3 separate regions of the Homo sapiens genome follow, and regions 2 and 3 are each linked to region 1. The links come from fine-mapping of genetic effects on gene expression. A gene starts in region 1. Each other region holds a variant in brackets. All regions are shown on one strand. Distances are between the middles of the regions.

Region 1 (5,937 bases):
ATTGTGTGGCTCAAGTGGAGCAGACCTGGGTTACAGCTACCCTGACATCCCTCAGCGCCAGGAACTCAGGTCCATGTCACAGCCCTATTCTTTGTGTTTTAATCCAATGTGGATTCACCTGATGTTTACTGAGCCCAGACTGCCAGTGGTTTATTTTATTTTATTTTATATTTTATTTTTTTTTGAGACGGAGTCTCGCTCTGTCACCCAGGCTGTGTGTTCTCAGCTTGCTGCAACCTCCACCTCCCGAGTTCAACCGATTCTCCTGCCTCAGCCTCCTGAATAGCTGGGACTACAGGCACCCACCACCACGCCTGGCTAATTTTTGTATTTTTAGTAGAGATGGATTTTCACCATGTTGGCCAGGCTGGTCTCAAACTCCTCATGTAATCCCTCATGCTGGGATTACAGGCATGAGCCATAGCACCCAGCCAGTGTTTGTATTTTCACAGGTGAGACATAAAGGCTCAGAGAGGGCAGGCACTTGACCAAAGTCACACAGCTGATAGATGGCTGAGCTGGGATTTGACCCAGGGTCTTGTGCCTCACAGCTGTTACCCCACCCTTCCTGTCTCCCTTGGATTTCAGGTGACAAGTGTCCTAGGTTCCTGATCACAAACTCAGGGTGGAGACAGGACAGCTTTGTCAGTCCTTTATTCTCTCTAGAGGAGGTGCTCAGTATATCACAGCAGTGGCTGATGTCGGGTGCTTGCCACAGCTCAGCACTGCTCTAATAACTCATCCTAACCACACCAAGCCTTGCTGAGACCTCTGAGCAATCCCACCAGGAGATACAGTGAGGTCCAGCCACTCAGGCCACACAGCGAACAGGAGGCAGGGCTGGTATGGGTGCAGGTGCCAACCCCGACTGTGCCGCCTCTCGGCTAAGCACCTGTGCAGTGACTGAGTGGGCTCGCAAACAGAGGGCTCTGCAGGTGGAGCACCCCAGGCAAGTCCCCACCATCAGCCCCATTCTGCAGGCGCGGCCCCGGGGCCAGGGATGGGAGGGTCTTGCCGGGCATCCAGCGAGGAGACTGCATATTCCCTGCCCAATCTGGCTTCACGGCGGCGGAACTGACGCCACGTCCCAGGGCGTTCGGGGCTGCCAGGCCTGGTGAGCACCGCGGACATCTCAGATGGCCGTTCTGCAGGTTGAGGCCCTCGGTGCCAGCGTCCCCGTGGGCAGTTCTGTGGCTTCCCTGGCCCATGTCGTCCTCTTGGCAGTGGCCACATCACAGCACCAGGTGGGATCAAAGGGGAGGGCAGCTCCCCAGGTGGACCTGAGCTTCTCACACTCTGACAAGCCCTCGCCTGCTGATCCAAGACACAGTGGCCTTTGAAATTCGATTTCCTTCCCCAGGTGAAAGAGGAGAACAGATTCTACACAGGGTCGGACTCAGTTCCCTTTTGATGTCTGTGGTGGCAGAGGGTGGGGAGGGACAGGAACTCACACAGGAGGGCAATCGTCCCGATCTGACGGGGGCGGGATGGATGAGAAAAGCTGGGAAAGGAGGAATCCGGCCCAGAGAACAATGCTGGCAAAAACGCGTCCTGGCCAACAGGTGCCAGGTTTCGTCTCTGGGCAGAACTGTCCCATGCTCTTTGTCTGCACGGGAGGAGGGGGCGGCAGCTGGTGTAAGTGCCACGCCAAGCTTTGCCCAGTCCCTTTGTTCTGCCATAGAGTAAAGATTGCCTTTCTTCCCCACCAGCCAGATGAAATCCCCAGGCCCACAGCAGCTTCACAAACAGCGGGGAGCCTGGAGGGGCAAGGGTGGCCAGGGCGTCATGTCCCGGCCCCTGACCTGCTGGGATCTGAGCTGCTGCCGGGGGAGCTTTGCTCTCTCCAGCCCCAGCTCCTCCAAGCTGCTGCTGTTCTTCCTCCTATGGCTGAGGCTCCACGGTCACCAGCTCCAAGAGCAGCAACCCAGCGAGGGGCTTAAAGCTGGCAGTGGGGACTCAGAGGGTGCCTGCCCTGCCCCTCCCATGCGATGGCAGGCCGTAGGGTTGCCGTGAGAGGCTGGAGGTTGTCGCGGCCTCTAGTCACGGTCCTGTCTTATAGAGTCCCTGCTCCCCTCAGAGCCACGTTGGAGAAATGACTGGTGGACGGTGCGGGGCTGCAGTGGAAAGGGCCTCCCTTGCAGTCCTTGGCTCCAGGCTCTCGCTGGAGGTCATGGGGACAGCTTCCAGACAATGGCCGGGACGCTGGGTGCACTCAGGCTGTGCCACCGATGCTGTGGCCACCACGGGGCATCCCCTTGCCTGCTCTGAGACTCAGTTTCTGTACCCATAAAATGGGCACAATAACACCCCATCCGCTTGTCCCGTTTCATTTTTCCTCACAGCATCATCAGTACCTGATACGAATTTCCTGGTTGACTCACTCACTCACTGCCTGTCTCTCCTGCCAATGGTGGCAATTCCTTGAGGGCAGGGACTCGGTTCCCCAGAGCATGCCTGGCACGGTGCAGTGAACAGACGAGTGGACGCAGTGTACACGTGGGTGCGGCGAAAGCTGCTGGATGGCAGCGTCTGCGTGGCATGGCCCGGGGCTGACGGGTCTCCTCCAACTTGCAGGGGGGCTTCGGGATCCTGGAGGAGATGTGTGTCAACTACGTGCACTACTACCCCCAGACGCAGCTGGAGCTCTGCAAGAGCGCTGTGGACGCCGGCTTCCTGCAGAAGTACTTCCACCTCATCAACAGGTGAGGGCTCCCTGCACAAGCTCCCTGCCCCCAGGGAACCCCGACACAGAACCTCGGGCCTGTTAGGCGGCTGGGCAGATTGGAGGAGTCCAGGCTAAGTTCTAGGAGCAGAGACCTGTGGCGGCATCACTCACCCCTCCCCTCACTCGTTTCCTGCTGAGTCTGGATTTGGCTTCAGAGCCTCCTCAACCCAGCCTGCAGCAGCCATTACCCACCCGCCAAGGTGACAGGAGAGGTGAGGCCGTTGCCGGTGAAGGCAGCATCTGGGGTGGCCTGGCGGAGGCAGCGGGGCTGGGGAGGAGGTGGCAGGACGGTTGCCCCAGGGACAGGACTCGAGTTGCAGGGAGGTGTTGCTGGTGCCCACTGGGCTCCCTGCCCGTCAGCTGCTCCCCAGCCTGGCTGTTCCTTGTCCCCACCAGGTTCAACAACGAGGATGTCTGCACCTGCCCTCAGGCGTCCGTGTCTCAGCAGTTCACCTCTGTTCCCTGGAACTCCTTCAACCGCGACGTACTGAAGGCCCTGTACAGCTTCGCGCCCATCTCCATGCACTGCAACAAGTCCTCAGCCGTCCGCTTCCAGGTGCGCTGCCATGGGCCCGGGTGGGGCATGCAGTCAGGCAGGCCTCATGGGGGGCCCCAGTGAGGGGTGATGGGTCTGCACTCCAAACTGCTGGCAAAAGCACTCGCACAAGACAATGAGAGCAAGTGCCAGGTGGTGACACATAGGCCTAGACAGCCAGCCAGCCAGCAGAGAGAGAGGAGAGAGGAGAGAGAGGAGAGAGAGGAGAGAGAGGAGAGAGAGGAGAGAGGGAGAGGGAGAGAGGGAGAGGGAGAGAGGAGAGAGAGAGGAGAGAGAGAGAGAGAGAGAGGGAGAGAGAGAGAACCAATAACGAGGCAAGGAAGGGAGGGCAGGCACCCTCTCTGGTGACACCTCCACACTGTACCGAATGCCAAATGCAGGTGGTGTGAGCAGGGCGCACTAACCTGCCTAAAAATAAAGCACCAGGGGAGGGGAAGGTAAGAAACGAACCAGTCTGAAGCTGCGAGCTGGTTTTTTCCTCCTTATCTGAGACCCACTGGTATTCGAAGGCATCTAATTTATCCTGGGCCCACTGGGCTGTGGTCAGGAGGCCAGGGCCTATGCAGAGTTAGTCGCGTAAGGTGCCGCAGCCTGGAGATCCAGGAAGATCCTTCCCAGAAGCATTTGGGAGCCAGATTAACTGCTAAGTCAAACATCCTCAGCACCAAGGGAAGGAAGGGCTAATACTGGCTTGCTGAGAATAGTGTGGGGTGGACGTCTGATGGGGTTGAAAACTTGGCATTTGGTGTAGCCTTGAGGGGAAGAGATAGCTAAAAAATATCAGAGCCTGCAGCCAGGGGCTCTGGTTGCTACACTAGGGTGAATGATTAAATTGGGTGGGGACAGAGGCGGGGAGAGGCCTGGATGACTCCCAGGTTCCTGACTAGGTGAATGGGAAGCCAGGGGAGGGGGCATTTACTGAGGTGAGGACCCCCAAAAAGCAACTTGGGGGAGCAGAGTGAGTTCAGTTTGAGACAAGCTGAGTTTGAGGGCAAGAATCCAAGAGGTGGCTGGGAAGTGGCTGGGGAAGCAGCCACCCATCTTGCCCCTCCAGCCTCAGTTTACCTCCTGCCCCCTTCCTTGCAGGGTGAATGGAACCTGCAGCCCCTGCCCAAGGTCATCTCCACACTGGAAGAGCCCACCCCACAGTGCCCCACCAGCCAGGGCCGAAGCCCTGCTGGCCCCACCGTTGTCAGCATTGGTGGGGGCAAAGGCTGAGGGGGGACCTACTCCTCCCCCTCCTCCATGCTGTCCCTGTGGGCTCACACCGGCACTGTGCACTCTACTCTGCGACGATCCCCATGGAACAGCCCTGCACGCCCAGGATGAAGGGGCCAGACCACGCCCCTGCCTGAGACCACGGTCCAATCCAGCCTTCTTCCCCCAGGGTCCCCTGCATGGCTGAGAGGGTGTGGGTGCCCTGTTGACCTACCCTGGACCGAGTGGACCACGACCTCGTCCATTTAAACCCGGCTGACTCAGTGCAGGGACAGCCTGCACAGTGGTCCAGGGTCCAGCCCTCCGCCAGCCCTGTTCCGCCTCACTGGGTGTGGCCTGGCTTCTGGGACAGGCACCATGCTGGGCCGGGGTGTGGAATCACCGGGAACGCCCCCGCCCCCGCCCCGCTGCTCCCGGTGTGCAGCGGGTGCGGGTGCCGCTTAAACATTTCCCTGCTGAGTGGCTCGTGTTTCACAGTGGGCGGCTTCCCTGCGACGGAGGCAGGACCAGGCATTTAGCTAGTTAGAGACTCGCCTGGGAAATTGCTCCATTCCTGAGTAAACAGATATTTTCGCCCACCTAAAGGGAAGCCCTGACAACAACTATCACCAAAAGACGAGGCGGCAAAGATCCAGCGGGGCTTCTGGGCGCCGGTTCCACGTGGGGTGGAATTATTAGCACCAGCTTGCTTCTCTGCCGGTGGGGCCAGCGCTGAACAGACCGGGGTGGAGTCAGGGCTGTGCTTTCCGCGTGGTTCTGCCACTTAGGGAGTGTGCCTTGGGCGGGCCATTTCACATTCCTGACCCTCACTTTTCTCATCTGTAAAACCAGGCTGATGCCGTGCGGGCTAATGAGCCAATAAAGCTCACACTTGGGCTGGCACCCACTGGAGGTGGGTATGTTTGCACTCCGGGCCGTCGCTCCAGGAGAGAGAAGCTTGCTCCTGAGCCTCCTCCCTGTGCCAGGCGTGGTACCAAGTGCTTCCCCCTGAGCGTCCTGAAGCTGCCTCAGCTGGCCTGGGTGGGTCTCCCCTTCCTGCCCTCTGAGCTGCCTCTCAGGGACAAGTTCAGCTCTTTGATGGTTTCTGGAGACAGTAACAGATGCACTTGTGTTCAGCCACTTCAGCAAAACGCTGCCCAGCCTCATGGGGAGAGAGGGAGATGGATGGGCCTCGGAGTCCCCTCGCATCAGCTAAGCGGCTGCTGCTTCTGCAAGGCACTTCACTTCATCACAGAAGGGAAGTCACGAGCCCAGGAGCTCTGCCTCACGTTGTATAAATCACAGCTTCTTGTGGTCCATAAGTCACGGCGCTAGCGCTGTGAAATGCCAGGCCCCAGCCTGGAGAGCCACTCCGGCCCTCTGTCATCTTTACAGCCTAGGTGACAGTAGACACGGAGCAGGCCCAAGAAGCCTCTTCCCGCGATCACACCCAATTGCC
Region 2 (5,937 bases), 25 kb after region 1:
AGCTCTGATTAAATCTATCTGGTGTGCTTTTCTCTTGTGAACCAGTCTTTTGTTACAGGGCTGTCTCCCATGCCCCTGATAATGGGTGAGGGGAGGGCTCACACCTTTTCTTTCCTTACAAGGGCAAGATGAGAACCTGGAACCGATTGCCCCTGAAGTCTCCAAGGCCCCCAGCTCAGAGCCCTCTGCACCCAGTTCTGCCTGAGGTCACTTGCCCCAGACAGAAGCAGCAAACCCGGGTGGGGGTCGAAGCTTCCCACCACCCACTCCACAAACACCCTCGCTCCAACTTCCCCTTGGGGCCCAGGCCCTTCACACTATCGTGGCAACAGCTCGACCCGTGACAGGGAACACGGTGCCCCAGCCTGCGGCCACCAGTCTCTCTGTGCTGCATCAGGGAACCTGCCCATGATATCGGGTATCTGTCTCAGGCCTCAGCAAATCTGCACGGGTTCTGTAAAGCGAGTGTTTAGGCAGTGGCTGGAACTCAGCTGGTCTCTGACTGGCATGTCATAGTTATCTAACGTGTGTGGGTGCAGGACTGCTCCATCCTGAGCTAATCAAATCCTAACAGCGCCGCGACTAGGACTTCTCGCTGTCAGGAAAAGAGATTCAATTTCCTTTTGAGCTGAAATTAATTTTCAGAGAAAATCACTTGATCACCGTGCCCCACGGAGTGCTCCCAGCCCAGCATGCTGCTTCGCGGCGGGGCCCGTCCTCGGCAGGGGCCCTGGGAACACCGTGTCTGGCCGAGCGGAGCTCTGGGAGACACGCCGGGAGAGCACTGACCCACGGGGAATCTTGCTGGCCTCGAGGCAAGATATTTGGGGAGCAAGGACAGCTGGTCTGCTGGCTGCTGAGCGGACAATAACTTCTCCCCACCCTGCTTCCTCCTCTAGCAGTCCAGGGATCGTGGCAGCCTGGGTCAGATCCCAGCCTCTCGGAGAACAATCACTGCACAACAGCAGCAGTGCTCAGCTGGGAATCGCGCCCAATTCGTCTGGTGGTGAGGAGGGTCTTTGGGCAGCGGCAGGCGCCCGCTCTCGCACCCGGGGCCCGGGTCTGCAGCTCTGGCCCTTGTCCTCATCGGCCCTCACAACTGCTTTCAACCCAGAGGTTCCGCTGACTGCGCAGGCACACGCATTCCTCGCCTGCATCTGGTTGGCTGGAACCCAACTGATCGCCTATAAATACCTGGCTCAGGCCCACGCTCCAGCCCAGCGTTTCTTCACGTTGAGGGATATGTCATCAACACATTTTTAAGCCAGCACAAGATATTATTTAGGAGAATATGAAATTCTCCCTGGATTCAGAGAATCCAGAGTGTCTGGACAGACTTATGGAAAGGCCCGGAAAGAATTTTAGACATTGTGCTAGACTCCGTGCTACAGGTGGGGACACTGAGGCCCAGAGAGGCGACCCGCAGAAGGACCGGGCAGGATGGGAAGCCAGGCTTCTGGCCTGAGCTCCACCGAGCCTTGGGTAACATGGATGCTTTGGTCCCAAACCCCCCAGTGTCTGTGGCTGACTCAACTCCCATCTCCCACCTGCCTGTGAGGCCCCCTACAGGGGGAGCTGGCCGTGGCCAGTGGCTGTATCCCCACCCGTCTTGCTGGCCAGGAAATGGGGAGGGCACTGTGTCCCAGGCTGGGGCCACCTGGGAGCGCGTGGCCCTGGCCACTTTGAGGGACAGCCTCCCAGGTCAGCAAAAACTGTAACATTGACACTAAGGGCCCAGAACCTCTGCTCTCCTGGCCCACACCTCCCCAGGGCCCTCAAGAGGAGGCAGAGGTCACTGAGGACAGGATTCCTGGCCGCTCCGTCCTCCACACGCTCCTCGAGTCCCCGGCCTCATCTCATGGGATCTGGACCCACCGGCCACCCAGCAACTTCAAGCTCCTGAGGGCCACAGTCGTCCTCCAGACACACGCAGACCTGGCCGCCAGGCCCACACTGGCCACTCCAGACACACGCAGACCTGGCCGCCAGGCCCACACTGGCCACTCCAGAGAGCTGCCGGGAGGACAAGGAGGGAGAGGGACGAGAAGCCAGTGGGGCTGCGCTCAGTGCTGGGCATCAGGGTCTCTAGGTGAAGATGGTTAGCCCCAGCTCACCCCCAGTCTGTCCCCGATGGACCCCACGGACTCCAAGAACATGAGCATGGGAATGACCCCACAGAGCCGGCCACTCAGCCCAGGTGACAGTAAATCTGTGCGCTAAGGTCGTCTGTCTTCCTAAGGAGTGGGGCCCTGGGCCACTGGCTGTCGGCAGAGACGAGCTCCTGGCTGGGGCTGTGTGGGGATGGAAGCCTGCCCTCAGCACCGGGGACATCTGCCGCCCTGGTCCTGCCACGGGGGCTGGGAGGTGTCAGGATGGGGCCCACAGGGATGGGGAGAATGCTGGTGGGTAGTGGGTAGAGCAGGGGCAGCTGATGTGGGCTCCCGGCTCGTCCACAGGCCCCTGGGGTCAGTCCCAGGGCAGAGCCCCCCAACACGGGCCACACTTTTTTTCTAGCCAAGAGGTCGAGACACTCGGGGCCTTGCCCCACCCTGTCTGGTTCTTGCCAACACTCAGTTCTCTGTGGCCATCTTTGCGGGACTCTCGGTTCCATGAGAACCCGTTGGCCTGGGGTCACCCCTCACCCTGCCTAGGACCTCT[T/C]TCCAGTACAGGCTGGGCTGTGGCTGCAGGTCCCTTCCTGGGCCCCAACCTCACTCGGGGTCTGAGCCCATCGAGGGAAGGAGCCACATCTTCCATCCTGGGACCCCAATCCAGCACCCAGCAGGCTCCCAGGCAGCATGTCCAGAGTTCACTCCAGAGTCTCTCGAGCGCTAGTGAGGGAGAGGACGAGAAGCACAGCACTGGGAACGGATCGTTAAGTTTAGTAAAACACTAGTGCTTGACTGAGAGTCCCAGTGGCCCTACGTGAGCTGACGGTGCTGGGAGGTACACCATGGATAACTGCCACGGCCGGTGCGCGGCGTGTTTCCCAGCAGCTGGGCCTCCTTATGCGTGTAGCACCTCCCCGCCGCCTATTTCCTGTGTCCCCACGATCGCGCACGCCAGTTGACGCTCATGTCCCACCTCCCCTGTGTTTCCCCTCCCCCCCATCCCACACGCAGGGACCCCAGCCTAGAAAGCATTGTGCTTCTCTCCCACTCCGCCTGAGACCTAGGGTAGCACTGGGCAAGCGAGGGGCGCAGAAATACGGAAGGACAGAGAAGAACACACCACAGAGTGACCCGGGACCATGAACCGCACATACCTCCGACCTGGTGGGCCCAGCTCTACCCTCTCTCAGACCAACAGTCAGCATCTACTGGGAGGACGGTGTTCAAGGGAAGTTCCTCCCGGGGCCACTTCCAAAGCAGAGAGGTGGACCCGGTGTGAAACACATGAGCAGGGCACTGGAGACGCAGCTGAGGGCGTTCCAAGTGGTTCTCGGGGAACGTTCAAAGGAACAGGGGAACAGTCACGACATTCGGAGAATAAAGCAGTGTGTACAGACTGCATGGGATGCCCTGATTACATTTTAAAATCCACAGATAGTCACAGATGACGGAAAGAAGATGGCGGGCAACACACTCAACTGTCAACCCTGGTTTCTCTGGGATGGGATTAGAGGGGTTTTCGCTAACTCATTGGCAGGCTATGAATGTCCCCAACGGTCCTCTGAGATGCCGCTGACCACCATGTCCCAGCCAGATGAGCTTCGTGCCGCAGCTCACGAGACCTGCCCACAGACCCAGCATCCTTGTTCTGAGGGGGCAAGGGTCGTGCCCAAAGTGGGCTTGGTAGAAGTGAGGTCTGCACTCAGCCCCTGTGCTGAAACCCACGCGCAGTGATGGTTGGAAACTGCTAGAAGCGAGGTCTGCACTCAGCCCCTGTGCTGAAACCCATGCGCAGTGATGGTTGGAAACTGCTAGAAGCGAGGTCTGCACTCAGCCCCTGTGCTGAAACCCACGCGCAGTGATGGTTGGAAACTGCTAGAAGCGAGGTCTGCACTCAGCCCCTGTGCTGAAACCCACGCGCAGTGATGGTTGGAAACTGCTAGAAGCGAGGTCTGCACTCAGCCCCTGTGCTGAAACCCATGCGCAGTGATGGTTGGAAACCGAGCAATGAGCAGTATTTTATGCAGCCGTGATGTGCTTTTTACAACACCAGTGATTTTACACCAATGAGCAGGAGACTGTGGGGAGAGGCGGCCCCTGCACCCCCTGCACCCCCCACGCTGTGTTTGGCCTGGCCTGTTCCTCTGGGGGATGTCATCCCGGAAGCAGAGCCTTTGGGTCAGCTCAGCAAGCACCTGGCCTGGCCTGGCTCCTAGGCCACACAGGTAGAGGCTGACCCAGGCAGCCACTGCCTAGGCTTGGGGAGGCTGCCAGGGCCAGGAAAGGGCCAGCCCCAGGAGAGGGGAGGCAGCTGGAGCCGCCTGTCTGAGAACAAGTCCCAGCAGCTTGCTGGAGTGGCCGTGCGGGTGGGGGCAAGGCTGCTGGGCCTCAAATGGGAGGGGACGTGTTCCCACCTGGTCGTCTCCCCGTCCTGTAGCCAAACCAGACAGAAGCAGCACCTATGCCAAGCCTCAGCAAGGTGGGAGAACCCGCAGCCCCCCTCCCCTTCTGCAAACCAGAACCCAGCTGCAGACAAAGCTGGATGCTGCGTGGACCCCGGCCTGCTGGAGCTGGAGTCGGGCCATCTGAAGGCCGTGTGGCCTGGATCCAGCTGTGCTGCTCTCTCTGAGTGCCCACCCTCTCTGGTCCCAGCAGGCAGCTTTGCACCACAGAGGCAGGAAGCAAGCTAGACACAGCCGGCCCTGCTTCCTGCCCCTGTGCAGCCTCTGGAGAGGGGAGGTGAGAGCAGAGCCGCTGGGATCTCCCTAGTTTCTGGCCGCCTCCTCCCTGACAGTCATCGCCAGATTGTTTATCTGCTAACAGAACCCAGATTTGTCCCCCAGGACCTCCAGTCCCTCTGCAGGCCAGGACCTCGCTCCTCCCCAACCTTCCTTAGCATTTCCCCACCCAAACCCCAGACGAACATACAGGAAGGAGAGACAGGGAGCTGCCTCCAAACGCGGCCGTGCACCCGCCCACCCCCTCCTGAAGGCCACATCCGTGTCACTGACACATATCGGGGGCTTTCTGGGTTTCTTTAGCCGGGCGGCCCTGAGCAGCCTGGCCCATCCAGCCTCTCTGAGCTCCATCTGGGTAACATCCGTCATGCAGGGCGACATCTCCTCCAGCATGAGCGCTGGAGGGCTCTGGAGGCCCGGCCCCCGCTGCCACTACATGGCTTACAGCCCTGCAAACAAGCAGGGTGGTCATGCACTGAGGTTCTCAATGGGCGATCCTGCCCCCAGCGGACCCTTGGCCATGTCTGAACACACTTGTGGCTGTCACGACGGTGGGTGCCACTGGCACCTAGTGGGCGGCAGCCAGGGAGGCGGCCACACACCTGTGTCACACAGGAGGGCCCTCACAGCAGAGAGGATCTCCTCCAAACGTCAGTAGTGCTGAGGTTGGGAGACCCTGTAACAGAGCCGCCCGCACTATGGCGAGGATTACATGGGAAAGTGTGCTGTGATGTTCTCGGAACAGTGTCTGGCACACAGGAAGCCCTCGGCAAACAGGGGCTGCTGTGTTTACCATCCTCATCTCAGCCTCGAGAAGTCAAAGCAGATGCCAAGATGCCTGTTTTCCAACAAGGAAACAAAGCCCAGAAGAGGGTCGTGCTGGCCCAGAACTAGAATCTGGGCCCCGATCCTGGTCTCTGAGGGAGCCTCCTGCCTGGGGCCAGGTCCCATGGAGTGCTGGCTCCGGACACTACCACCATCTCAGAAGGGACGGGCTCTGGCCCCCAGGATACAGGCTTTCTAGAGTTGGTGGGGGACATGTGGGGTGCTGTTTGGGGACTGGCTGTGCTCCCACCCCAGCAGCCCCTCCT
Region 3 (5,937 bases), 48 kb after region 1:
CCACAGGCTTTAGAAGCTGTGGGTGCGGAGGTGCCAGACGGAGCCCCGAGCACTCCCTGGGAGGCAGCGACAAGGGACTCGGGCACTGAGCCGGCCCTGCTGCTGCGGCGCTTCATGACACACACGCCTCCTCCTTCCTGCAGGAGCCCCCTCTTCCGACGCCTTGAACAGATGTTCCACCACTAGAGCAAGCTTTCGGGGAGATGGTGGAAATGAACGGTTTATTCCCTTCAGAACTGGCTACAGAACCCAGTGCGGGACCCAGTGGGGACCTTGCTCAAAGACCATGAAGAGTCTCAAGGCACTGACAGCACAGCATGAACCCAAGCGGGGCCCTTCAAGGCAACGGACGACCGCAGGGTCAGACCCTACCCAAGCCGGACTTGCGACTGGCCTAGAGGCCCCAGGAAGGAACCCCCTCGTGGATGCCTCCTAAGCTGTCCCTGGGCTCTGAGACTCTGGGCTCAGGCCTTGGCTCTGCTCCTATGTCAGATTCGCAGTGAGGTGTCACGCGTCTCCCTGGGGTGGCACGGGGACAACAGCTGTGCTCCACCTGTGAGCACTTTACAACACGACTGGGCAGGCCAGGGCAGACGCTGGCCTCGCTCCTTCCCGGACAGCTGCGGGGGAGAACGCCCCTGTGTGGTGCAGGCTGCTGCGGGGGAGAAGACCCCCAAGACTCCTCACCTCCACCCCCTGCACGTGGGAGCCAGGTCCCCAGGCAGGGGCGACGGGCTGCCAGCTGCCCCGTGTGAGCAGCCTCGCCTGCCCACTTTGGAGCCAGAGGAACAGCAAGCAGGCTCCAGGCCACGGCCCTCCCGGCTCTGGTTCCCTCTGCTTGTCCCTTGGAGGGGCCCATACGGGGCCTGATGCCCAGGAGCCTGCGGCCCCCTTGTCCTGGATCTACTCTGCGCTGGCTTCCAGGAGGGAGGACCCCCTTCCCCCACCACGTCTCATGCCAGCCTCGGCGCAGCTCCGGAGAGCGGGAGGCGGAGGCTCAGAGCGGTGCAGCCCCACCGGGCCCCAGCCCGTTGCCTCCGCCCCCACCTCACCCCATCCCCAGCAGCACCACTTCCGCTCAGGCCTGGCTGCTGGCAAAATCTCGGCACAGAGGGAGGAGGGGGAGAGGAAAACGCATGATTCCTCCTCAAAATGGAGTCAGCCGAAAAAAGCGTGAATGCAGAGCCCGAAGAGACTCCTGGGGGAGGGGAGCCCCTGCAGGGCCAGCCGAGGGCCGGCGCAATGGCTTATCTGAGGGACAGGCAGAAGGACGGACCCCCACGGTGGACCCCAGCTACGCACCGTGTCGTGGTGGGGCGGGAAGGCGAAGGTGTACTCGTCTGCCAGCAGCCTGCGGTAGGCGTAGTCCTCGTGCGCGCGGCTCCCGTAAGCCCCGTAGTAGTCGTACTCGAGGACCTGGGAAGAAAAGACGTGGTCCTCAGCCTGCCTCTTTGGCCCCTCCCCGCTTCCCTCCCCAGAGCGGGGTCCCGCTGAGGCTGTGATGGGGTCAGGCCTGGCCCTGCCCTCGGAGAGCCCTGCACTGAGTGCCCGTGTGTTGTGGACGCGGGCAGGGGGCCCCCATGAGGTCCAGGCAAAACAGAGGCACAAAGGAGGCCGCAGGGTTGCCTGGTGGGTCTGAGAGCCCAGCCAGGGCCCAGGAGGCTGGAGGAGGAGCTGGATGCACCCAAGGTGGGGAACGACAGGGAGAGGTGGTTACCCAGGACCTCAGCCAGGGCTGCTCCCTGGAGCCACGGCAATCCCAGGCCCAGCTCCTGCTCTGGGCCAGCCCCTGCGGGAAGCGTCTTACACTCCTACCAGGTGTGCCCCTTTCTACAGATGAGGAAAGTGAGGCGCAGAGAAGTTATATCTCGCCCAAGGGCACAGACAAGTCCTGGACCTGGCAGTGGCACGAAGCCAGGCAGGTGCGTGGGCTCCAGAGTCCAGCTTTTCTGCCACTGCCTTGGCCTCCCTGGGATCTGCCCCCATCAGACACCCCACAGCCCCACAGCCCCATGCCCCTCCCTGGCCGCTGCTCCTGCAGACAACCCCCCACCCCGCCACCTGCCCTCCTAACTGCCGACACGGCACAGCTGTGAATGCAGGTGTGGGCAATTCTTAACCTCCCAGGGCTGCCAGCCCCGTCCGCCCAAGCCTCACCTCCTCTTCACACACAAGTGGGAGCCAGTGTGAGGTTGTAAGGGAGTCAGGCTTTGCTGGCATCTCTGCATGGAGTACCCCCCTCCCCAGCAGGGACATCCCACCCACTGCAGCCCTGCCAAGGTGTCCTGGACACCCAGGCTGGCTCCCGGGTGGGGGTGCAAAATCCGCCCATCTTGGGACCTGGGGTGTGTTCCTGACTCTCCTCTCCTCGCCCAGGGACAGGGGAGAGGGGCTTCCAGGGCCAGATCTGACTGGAACACAGTGGGTTGCACTTCAAGACAGGGTCTGCCCAGACCCCTCCTCCCCGCAGGGTTCATGAGGACGGCATGTCCCTAGGGGCCAGCAGGAGAAGAGACGATGACCTGCAAGGCTCTGACCCCAGAGCCGTGGCCCCGTTAGCCAGCTCTGGCTCTCATCTCCCCTCCCGATGCCCTGGAGCTCTGGAGCCTGGCCTGGGCTGTGGGTTGCCATGGGGATGGAAGGTGGGTGCACCAGAGGGGACTGGTGAGACGCAGCCCCGGGAAGGGGATTTCGATTTCTGTAAATCTGGATCAAATGCTACCCCTCAGCTGGCCTTAAGGCCTCGCGTCCCCTGCTCCCGAGGGTCTGGGTCCCAGGTTTCACAGCAGGACTGCCTTTGTTCCTCTCACTGAGGACCCAGGTCCCTGGGAGTCCCCAGAGGACGCCCAGAGTCCAGGCCACTGTGAAACCTCCACTGGGAAACTGAGCACCCTGGGTGCATCAACCTGCCCAGTGCCTGCCCTCCTACGGACATAAACCAACAGTCGGAGTGGCCAAAAATAGATGCACAGAATTAGGAGACGCTCCATTCCTCCTGCAACCTGGGGGAGTCTTCTTGCTGTCTCCCCACCGCAGGACACCCCTTCTGCTCTGCCTACAGCCCTTCCCACTTAGGCCATGGAAGGCCTGGCCACAGCGGACGGGTAGTGGGGAGGACGAGGAGTGGGAATTGCGTGAACGGCACAAAGAATGCACTGAGCCTTGGGGGCAGGTCGGCAGGGCTCGGCTTCCCGTGTGCAGAATAACTGATCACGACAGTGGAACCACCTGGGGAGGCGGGGCACACGGAGGGGCAAGGACGGGGCACG[T/C]GGAGGGGCAAGGGGGTTGTCAGGGCAGGGCCTCCCAGCAGCACAGCCCAGCAGGCACTACTCACCGGAGCTGGGCCTCGGGGATGAAACCATCCCGGTCGCTCCCAGCCATGCCGCTCCTGGAACACGCAGCCTTGTCCAAGGAGTTCCTGAGCAGGAGTGGGGAACAGGCATCTGTCACGCATGGCCTGATACCCCTGCGCAGGGCAGAGAGCCACATCCGCCACTTTACACCCAAGGGTGCGGAGAGCAAGGAGGCCCTGACTCTTGGAACCAGGCCTCCAGCCCAGTGTTTGCAGCTACCCTCACTGCCTCACCCTGAGAACCCCTATGTGTAGAATTACCACCTGCCCCATCTGCCCTCACCCTGAGAACCCCCATCTATAGAATTACCACCTGCCCCATCTGCCCTCACCCTGAGAACCCCCATCTATAGAATTACCACCTGCCCCATCTGCCCTCACCCTGAGAACCCCCATCTATAGAATTAATTACCACCTGCCCCATCTGCCCTCACCCTGAGAACCCCCATCTATAGAATTAATTACCACCTGCCCCATCTGCCCTCACCCTGAGAACCCCCATCTATAGAATTACCACCTGCCCTGATCTGCTCTTGCCCCAGGAATCCCATCTATAGACTTACCGCCTGCCCCATCTGCCCTCACCCTGAGAACCCCATCTGTAGAATTATCACCTTCCCCTATCTGCCCTCATCCTGAGAACCCCCAGCTACAGAATAGCACCTGCCCCATCTGCCCTGGCCCCGATAACCATCATCTGTAGAATTACCACCTGCCCTGATCTGCCTTGGCCCTGAGAACCCCCATCTGTAGAATTACCATCTGCTATGGACGGAATCACATCCCCACATAAATTCGTATGTCAAAGCCCTGACCCTGACGTGACTCTATTTGGAGATGGGATCTTTAGGTTAAATGAGGTCATCAGGGTGGGTCCTAATCCCATACGGCTGGAGCCCTTATAGGAGGAGGAAGCGACGCCAGGGCCCTCTCCCCGCTGCATGAGGACAGTGAGAAGGTGGCCGACTACAAGCCAGGAGAGCCCTCTCCAGGAACCCATCGTCTGACACCTTGATCTTGGACCTCCCAGTCTCCAGAAATGTGGGGAAAAAAAAGTTCTGCTGAAACCTCTCCACTTGTGGCCTTTTGCTGTGGCTGCCCTAGCAGAAAGATGCACCATACGACCCAGCAATTCCACTCCCAAGTATGCACAAGAGAACTGAGAGCGGGGTTGTAAACAAATTCCGTTCACGCATGTTCACTGAGCTCTATGCGCAACCACTAACCAGGGGAGAGAACCCCCGTGGCCCTCAGCTGATGAGTGGATCAACAAAGCATGGTCTGCATACACCATGGAATATTATTCAGCCATAAAAAGCAACGAAATTTGGACACATTTTATCACAGGATGAACCTTGAAAACATGCTACAGGAATGAAGCCAGACACAAAAGGTCATGTATTGGATGATTCCAGCATATGAAGTGACCTGAACAGGCAAATCCATAGAGACCGAAACAGCTTAGTGGTTGCCAAGGCTGGTGGGAGGAGATGAGGAAGGGCTGTTTACTGGGGATGGTGTTTCCCTGTGGGGTGATGAGAATGTTCTGGAACTGGGTAATGGGAACGGTTGCACAGCACTGCAAAGGCACTTAATGCCACTGAATTGTACACTTTAGAGCAGTTAAAATAGCTCATTTTAAGATCTGCCTACTTAATCACAACAACGAATGTAATGAACACACTAGAGAAACAGAGTGGGAGGTTTCTTTAAAAATAAATTTGGTTTGGGAAAAAAAAGAAAACCCACTCTCGGGTTTGGAAGGGCCCTACCCAGGGGCCACCCCCTCTGACTGGAACGAGGCCCCGAGCGCAGGGCTGAGAGGGCCTCGGGGGCAGCATCTGGTTCCAGATGGCCCGCTGAGGGTCTGTCCCAACAGCACTTGCCCTCCCCTCCACCCCCGAGGCCCCAAGAAGGAGGAGGCACGCCCAAGGCCACAGCATTCATCAATGACATGGACATGTCCTCCCTGCCTGCCTGGGATTCTGAGGGGATGGCAATCGAGGGCACAAAATCCACCCACCTCTCAGTGAACCATGGGGACATCCCATGGGCCACCTTTCTAAGGAGGCAAACTGTTCATCTCAAGAGCCCATTAAAAGAGGGCAGGCTCCCCTCTTTATAAAAGAAAGAAAGAGAACAAACTTAAGCGGCTGTCAAGTGTCGCAAGAAGGCTGCTAACTAGGAAGGGAAGTCGAGGCGTGGGTGAACCAAGATTTCCCTGGGGGGCAGGGGCGTGCTTCAGCCCTTGCCAAGTTTCTTCGGTAGAGCTGCTCAGTTCTGAGGAATGCGTCTGAGCTGACTGCGAGAGGAGCAAACCCTGCATTCACCCAGGGAGGCTTCTGAACTGTCAGGACTGGCAAGGGCGTGATTACTGATTACAGGCCCGGGGGCATGCTAGGGAGACCCCAGGGCCATGTGTGGCCTGAGATCATAGCTGGTCCACCAAGCCAGGCCAAAGGGCCAGGGCAGTCTGGGAGCCAGCCCTGTGACCACTCTGGGCCTCTCCCCAGGAGGTACAGCTAATACCAGGATCTCTCTTGGGGCCAGACACTGGAATCTCAGGTGAGGGAGGCCCCTTCTTC

What was found.
Region 2: its variant is fine-mapped to the expression of DBH-AS1 in whole blood (INTERVAL, PIP 0.92).
Region 3: its variant is fine-mapped to the expression of DBH-AS1 in whole blood (INTERVAL, PIP 0.98).

The regions. Positions count from the first base shown.
Region 1 is chr9:133,653,949-133,659,885 of GRCh38, forward strand. It overlaps DBH-AS1 (DBH antisense RNA 1), which reads right to left and starts at 3,460. Exons shown (of 2, transcript NR_102735.1): 1 at 3,179-3,460; 2 at 639-2,589. It overlaps DBH (dopamine beta-hydroxylase), which reads left to right. Exons shown (of 12, transcript NM_000787.4): 10 at 2,575-2,702; 11 at 3,122-3,281; 12 at 4,368-5,381. The coding sequence ends at 4,499. It also overlaps a transcript of SARDH not described here. RefSeq lists an enhancer at 535-1,334.
Region 2 is chr9:133,678,814-133,684,750 of GRCh38, forward strand. All of the region lies in intron 17 of SARDH (sarcosine dehydrogenase), which reads right to left. Among named protein-coding and RNA genes, the nearest start is that of DBH-AS1, 24 kb to the left of the region's middle. The variant T/C (reference allele first, on the strand shown) is at 2,659.
Region 3 is chr9:133,701,614-133,707,550 of GRCh38, forward strand. SARDH (sarcosine dehydrogenase) reads right to left here. Exons shown (of 21, transcript NM_001134707.2): 12 at 3,335-3,418; 13 at 1,303-1,416. Among named protein-coding and RNA genes, the nearest start is that of SARDH, 34 kb to the right of the region's middle. The variant T/C (reference allele first, on the strand shown) is at 3,270.